Linked DNA regions of Homo sapiens: region 2 is reported to be linked to region 1. Evidence: microRNA targets listed by miRTarBase, many of them from high-throughput screens and not tested one by one. Region 1 holds a microRNA gene; the other region holds the end of a gene's coding sequence.

What was found. Region 1 holds the annotated microRNA hsa-miR-4769-3p (UCUGCCAUCCUCCCUCCCCUAC, at 912-933, shown strand). A microRNA usually pairs through its seed, bases 2 to 8, with sites in the 3' UTR of a target mRNA and lowers its output. Matches are read on the target gene's strand: a 7mer-m8 pairs with bases 2 to 8, a 7mer-A1 pairs with bases 2 to 7 and ends in A, and an 8mer does both.
Region 2: miRTarBase lists RAB7A as a target of hsa-miR-4769-3p. Seed matches in the 3' UTR shown: 7mer-m8 at 2,906-2,912.

What each region holds. Positions count from the first base shown.
Region 1 is chrX:47,586,565-47,589,970 of GRCh38, forward strand. MIR4769 (microRNA 4769) reads left to right here and starts at 865; the gene lies at 865-941. The region is part of intron 5 of SYN1 (synapsin I); the gene reads right to left. It overlaps TIMP1 (TIMP metallopeptidase inhibitor 1), which reads left to right. Exons shown (of 6, transcript NM_003254.3): 6 at 1-225. The coding sequence ends at 127. RefSeq lists a silencer at 726-1,020.
Region 2 is chr3:128,813,206-128,816,611 of GRCh38, reverse strand. It overlaps RAB7A (RAB7A, member RAS oncogene family), which reads right to left. Exons shown (of 6, transcript NM_004637.6): 6 at 1,814-3,285. The coding sequence ends at 3,190. Among named protein-coding and RNA genes, the nearest start is that of MIR12124, 32 kb to the left of the region's middle. RefSeq lists an enhancer at 3,172-3,406.

The DNA.
Region 1 (3,406 bases):
TCATTGCTTGTGGACGGACCAGCTCCTCCAAGGCTCTGAAAAGGGCTTCCAGTCCCGTCACCTTGCCTGCCTGCCTCGGGAGCCAGGGCTGTGCACCTGGCAGTCCCTGCGGTCCCAGATAGCCTGAATCCTGCCCGGAGTGGAAGCTGAAGCCTGCACAGTGTCCACCCTGTTCCCACTCCCATCTTTCTTCCGGACAATGAAATAAAGAGTTACCACCCAGCAGACACTGTTTCTGTGTAGTGCCTGGGAACAAACCCATGTTGCTGATGACCTGGTGTGAGCACCCTGGGACCAGTGGGGATGAGGGATGCCAAATGTTGGGTTTTTATATTTTACTTAAATTCTGATGTACTGGTAGTAATTCTCAACATTGGCATTAGCACTGATGATCTGCAACAGCAGCAATGGTCACTGAACCTGCATTATCAACCGTAACCTCTGAATAATTTCTCCAGCCAATACTTTAAAACATTTTCCTATACTGATTCCTAATTGCTATTTGCCCAGGGCTTTCTAGTTATAAATTATCCCACAGCTGACAAATCACTGCCTTACTGGAAATTCCCCATTCACACATCTTGCCAGCTGACAGAGTCATTGACAAATGCCCTACCAATTGGCAAATGACTATCATTGCCTCAAGCACAGTCCTGATGTTGTCCAGTGAGGATGCCCCATCCAAACACGTGGGTGTTACTGTCCTCATCCTCAGGTTTTGTACCATGAGTCTGACTTGAGTGAAAGGGGACCCAGGGCACCCAGAGTCCCACAGTAACCCAGCTGGGGACTTGGGAAGAAGGGGTGGCCCTGGCTCCCCAGCCATGGCTGCAGGACATTCCTTGGAAGGGACTGTTTGGGGCAGAGGAGAGGTGGGATGGAGAGAAGGTATGAGCTAAAAATCCCCAAGCTCTGCCATCCTCCCTCCCCTACTTCTCCCCTCACTCCTCTGACCAACTTGGAAGGAAATACTGACAGCAATGAAATGCAGGTAGGGTTCAAAATTAAGACCAGCCAGATATGCTGGCCCATACCCTCCACACACCTCCCTCAACCCAACTGTCCCCTCACCCAAACTAGGGTCTCTAGACTCGACCCTCACCTTTATGAATCATCCTTTCTCTAGAAAAACTGAGTGAGAGAACCTCCAAATACTCCCCTCTGAGGCCTTCCTGCTTCCACAGCGGGGTCCAGTCCCTGGCTCCTGCCCCTCATACTCCAAAGGTCTTGACTCAAGTGAGGCCCTTGGGAACTAGAATTTCAGACTGGTGCAAACATTCAATGGAGCACCTGTGTCCTCCTGACCTGAACGTGCTTGAAAAGGGCCCCAATATATCTCCTTTGGTAAAGAAAAGGACCCCCAAATTCCCTCTCATCAGAGTACCCACTGCTCTTACCAGTAAGAACCCAGGTCTCCTCCAGGGCATTCTAGGTCACCAAGCACAGCCCCCTGGATCTTCTGTGGTCCTGTCCCAGAGCCTTTTACACTCCTGGGAGGTTACCCCACGGCCCAAATTATGTCCCGGATGGGAATGGGCAGATTTTGAACACACAGTACTCAGCCACTTAAGCAGGGAATGCGCATGCAGCAACAATTTCTACATCAACATCTACACCTTGGTTACGCCCTCGGAGGGTCTGAACCTTGTCCACCGAAGGGGCCAACCGCAGCCTTTGCTGATGGGCACAACTGTAAGGTAAGGGCCCGAGCCCTGGTTCATCCCTGGTGACCTTGTCAATGTTCCCTCAGCTGCCTGCAAGAGGCTGACCGCTCCTGGCAATTCGCCAAACCTTAGTGTCAGCTACCTGCACTCTTAAGCTGCTCCCTGGCCTCAGGGCCCATTTCCTAAGTCCTCAGCTCTTCCAAGCCCTAGGGGGAAGGTGAAGTAGCAGGGGAAGGATGGAACCCAGCGTGGAGGTCGTTCTCCTGCCGACCTGTCTACCCTGCAGGTCAGCCCTTCGCCAAGTGCAATGCAGAATGGACAGGGAGGACCGGAGACCAGAACAGGTCTCAGGGGACACAGAGCCCAGAACAGCAGACGAGGCTACCTCCACCAGAGACCTGGCATGAGCTCCTGGCAGGATCTGTAACCCTGGGCTCATTACATCCCCCATTGCTCTTGTAGAACATCTGTTAAAATAGGTCAAGTGAGCATCCTCCATCCCCAGCATTCGGGGTGTCTGTGGGTGAATCTCTGGGAGAGACTCTGTGACAGCTGAGAGGAAGCTTGTAGGGGTCACAGCCATGTGGTATTCAGCATGGGACCCAGCTCAGTGGGGAGCCTGGGGGGCCAGTCCTTCTCTCACCTGAGCCTCAGTCCTTCTCGCCATGTTTAAACATGGACGTCACAGTCCTGGCCCAGAATCCTTCAGAGGTCTGTGGTGGGGTTGGAGGATGTTTACGGGGTGTCTTTGCCCCTTGGATATTTTTGGGGGGGTCAAAACACAGGAAATGGGACAGTCATGGTGGCTGACGCCTGTAATACTAGCACTTTGGGAGGCCAAGGTGGGCAGATCACGAGGTCAGGAGTTCAAGACGAGCCTGGCCAACATGGTTTCCATCTCTACTAAATATACAAAATTTAGCCAGCTGTGGTGGCGCATGCCCTGTGGTCCCAGTTACTTGGGAGGCTGAGGCACAAGAATCGTTTGAACCCAGGAGGCGGAAGTTGCAGGGAGCTGAGATCATGCCACTGCACCCCAGGCTGGGGGATAGAGCAAGACTGTCTCAAAAAAAAAAAAAAAAAGGCCGGGCATGGTGGCTTACGCCTGTAATCCCAGCAATTTGGGAGGCCAAGGTGGGCAGATCACGAGGTCAGGAGATCGAGACCATCCTGGCTAACAAGGTGAAACCCTGTCTCTACTAAAAATACCAAAAAAAAAAAAAATTAGCCGAGTATGGTGGTGGGCGCCTGTAGTCCCAGCTACTCGAGAGGCAGGAGAATGGCATGAACCTGGGAGGCGGAGCTTGCAGTGAGCTGAGATCAAGCCACTGCACTCCAGCCTGGGCAACAGAGCCAGACTCCGTCTCAAAAAAAAAAAAAAAAAAAAAGCAGGAACCCTGGAGCCAGATCATCTGCATTCAAATCTTGCCCCTGCCATGTCTTAGCTCTGTGTCCTTGAATAAATCATATTGCCTCTTTGAGCCTCAGTTCCTGCATCTGTAAGACAGGGATAAAAAGAAGGCCTAACTCATAGAGACAATGTCCATATTAAATGAGGTTGTATATGTGAAGTACTTGGAACAGTGCTAGGCATATAGCACTTACAAGCATTAGTTACTAGAAGTAGTTATGATAACTATAACTTATAACTTTAGTAGTGATTATTTATAATATTGCAAACAATGTTTGATATTAGGCATGATAATATACGATATTGGAAATAATGTGTATGATTAGTACCA
Region 2 (3,406 bases), not on the chromosome of region 1:
GAACCCAAACAATCCATAGTACTGCAGACAAACTCAGTCCCAGATATTCTTCACAAAAGTAAATCCTTACTGCTTATTCCAGCAAAATGACAAGTTCCCCTCTTTTGAGAGAAAACACATGCTTATGCTGAATCTAAATAGGAATATAGAAAAAGGCACTGTGATGACTCTTAATGAGCATTAAGAGTCATCACCACTCCCTAATCTCAAGTACCCAGGGACACAAATGCTGCGGAAGGCCGCAGGGTCCTCTGCCTAGGAAAACCAGAGACCTTTGTTCACTTGTTTATCTGCTGACCTTCCCTCCACTATTGTCCTATGACCCTGCCAAATCCCCCTCTGAGAAACACCCAAGAATGATCAAAAATAAATAAATAAATAAATAAAATAAAATAAAAAAATAAAAAAAAGAAAAAGGCACTGTGTTGATGCAGAGCTCAGTCTCAGCCATGGCTCCCTATTGTGGTTAAGCTGAATCCCTTAGATGAACATTATACAATTTAGGGTTAAAATATGACACCAAGCTCAGCCATCAGGCTGATGGGACATGAGACTAATTAGTCCCAGGTCAGAGAGTAAGACCTATTGTCATGGTAGGGTTCCATGTTAACTTCAAAGTCAGGTGATGATTAGGGTCAGGAGGTGGGTCAGAGTCAAGGTCATTCAGCAGTGAACGTGTTTAGGGTAAAGTCAAAGCCAGTTCAAAGCCAAAGCCATTAAAATTAGGGTAAGTTATGATAAGGACAATGGTTGAAATCAGTCAATTAAAGATTACATTCATCTCAAGCTAAAGCAGGTTAATATCAGGATGATCATCAGTTTTAGGATGAAGGTCAAGCAGGTCAGAAGTCAAGGTCCATTTTAATGTCACATACAAGGTCAAGACCAGTGGAACACAATCAGAGGAATAGATGCCTGATTTGCAGAGGTGAGCATCACACAAGGGTCCACACCCTGTGGCCCAGTCACTGGGCCCCAAGCTGGAGAGAACTCTGCTCCTCTAGAGGACAAACACCTGATGAGGCCCAAGCAAAATATAGGACCAGAGAAGATTTAAGCCACCCAGCCAGGGTGGAATTGCACTGTGGATAATCTCACATTGTGCAGCATCTGAACTTCTAAACTATGCTATTTTTAACACATAAAGTACATGCCAAGAGGAGCCACGAGGAAAGAAACCAGCTGAGGAGCCTGAGAAGTGGAAATGTAGAAAAGTGTAGCAAAGTAGAATTCAAGATCTAACTCAATGAGGCACTTCTGCAAAACCTAAAGTGACTCACGACCTGAACTACTACTATTTTAATAAAATTGCTTCTAAGTGGCAACTATTCCATTCCAGGTGGGGGCTTACATATGTTGGAATACAGGGCCTCTGCTGCCAAATCTTCCTCTCCTGTGACAAATGCAGAATTACACATCTAAGTGTTAGCAACTAGGTCAACTAAAAATAAAACACATAACACATGACTAGGTTACAGTTACACCTACAGGATATGCATGGCTCAGAGTCCCCAGCAGTTTCTGGCTGCTCTCCTAAAGGGACAATGCGTTCTCCATCCATGGTCCTCAACCTCCAACAATGTGATTAAAATACACCCACCCCCGCCCCCGGAAAAAAAAACAAACAAAAAAAAACTAGGGACAGGCACTACAGGACCAGATATGAGAGGGCCTTTCTGCCTTGAAGCACCACACGTGCCCATTTATGGAGGGCTCTCTTGCTTGATAAGGCATTGACTATGATTAGCTCATGTGGTCTCTACTGAGCCAAGGCTCTTGAAGAAGGAAAAAAAGACTCTGGCAAAGGCAGATGATCATTGTTCTTGTTCAATTTTATTGGCATTGCGTTCATCTCTTTACAGAAGAACTCAGCCCACACCCTAGAATGTAGACCTTTGGAAAAAGGAGAAGTGCTCCGTTAAGCAAGCTACAATGCAGGGGCAGATCCTAGGAAGGGAGCAGAACTGCCAGGGTTCCAACCAAAGAAAGAGGTTAATTAATAATGGGCAATATTGGGGAGATGGGTGGGGAAAAGAGGAAAAAGCTCCGCTAACCTAAGAATACCACAACCCTGAAAGGAGCGCCTTCTAGAACAAAGGTAAAATCACTAGGACAGATCTGTTAGGGTTTTCCTTTCACTCTTGTAGTAGAATGCTGATCTAACGGGAGTTTTGAAGTGTGGAGCAGGGGGGAAAAAAAAGAAAGAAAATGAGAATTTTAATTTTTGAAATAACGGCAATTTATCCATTGCACATACCACTGTATTATGCAAATCAACGTTTTGGAAAATTTAGACACAGAAGGGAACTAGACAGTTTTCCCCCTGGAGAGATGAAAAGCTTTTTGGCTCTTAAGTCTTTGATAAAAGGCGTACATAATTCTTGTGTCTACTGTACAGAATACTGCCGCTAGCTGGATTTCCCAATTCTGAGTAACACTCTGCAATCCAAACAGGGTTCAACCCTCCACCTTACAGGCCTGCATTACAGGACTTAAACACATAATCCAAGAATTTCTTACACTAATTTATACATTTTAATTGGTTGCATATATTAACATGTACTATAAGATTCTTTTCTAAGAAGCATTACATAATAAATGGATACTGTAAAAAGATCTGATTAGTTAAAAGTAACAAGCATTAACAGATAGATACATACAAAACTCAGCCTGATCAGACTGGGTGTGAGCCTGTAATGGGGCATGGGGCACCAGCCTTCCCAAGGGGTAGCCTTCAAGGAGGGAGGGGAAAGGGGGGGTAAAAAGACCACAAGACCAATAAAAAAAATCAGATAATTAGACACAGATTAACTGTAAACAGTTCTCTCTCTCTCCAGTGAACAAAAAGAATAAGCTTCCAATGCCAACTCCATATCAGAATGACTTCCACCGCTGGCTTGTCCTGCTGCCATACTCGCGGGCTCATGTGGGTGGGCAGGCAGACCCCAAGGAGCCATCACGGGCAAGGGCTGGAGTTTGATTACGTCAGATCTGTGTGTGTGTGTGTGCGTGTGTGTGTGTGTGTGAGAGATATGTGGGGTGTAACTGTGTTTGATGGGGTTTTCTTTTGGCAGCTGGATGTGAGAGATCAATGTATGTTTTGTTTGGAAGAGGAGAGGGGAATTGTGTTGAAGGCCTACGTGTGTTCTTGGTTTGTGAAGGACTCTGTGCTCAACTCTCACTGCCCCCTCAGCAACTGCAGCTTTCTGCCGAGGCCTTGGCCCGGTCATTCTTGTCCAGTTTGATAGGTTCAGGAAATTCGTTGTACAGCTCCACCTCCGTTTCCTGGACAAGGAAACAGAGAAAGGTTGGTTACTCAGGGAATAGAAACATTTCAGCCCTCATTGCGGGCACTTTCTGCCCAGGAGGGGCTCACTTCTGCTTGGGCAGAGTGGGCGGGGAGCTG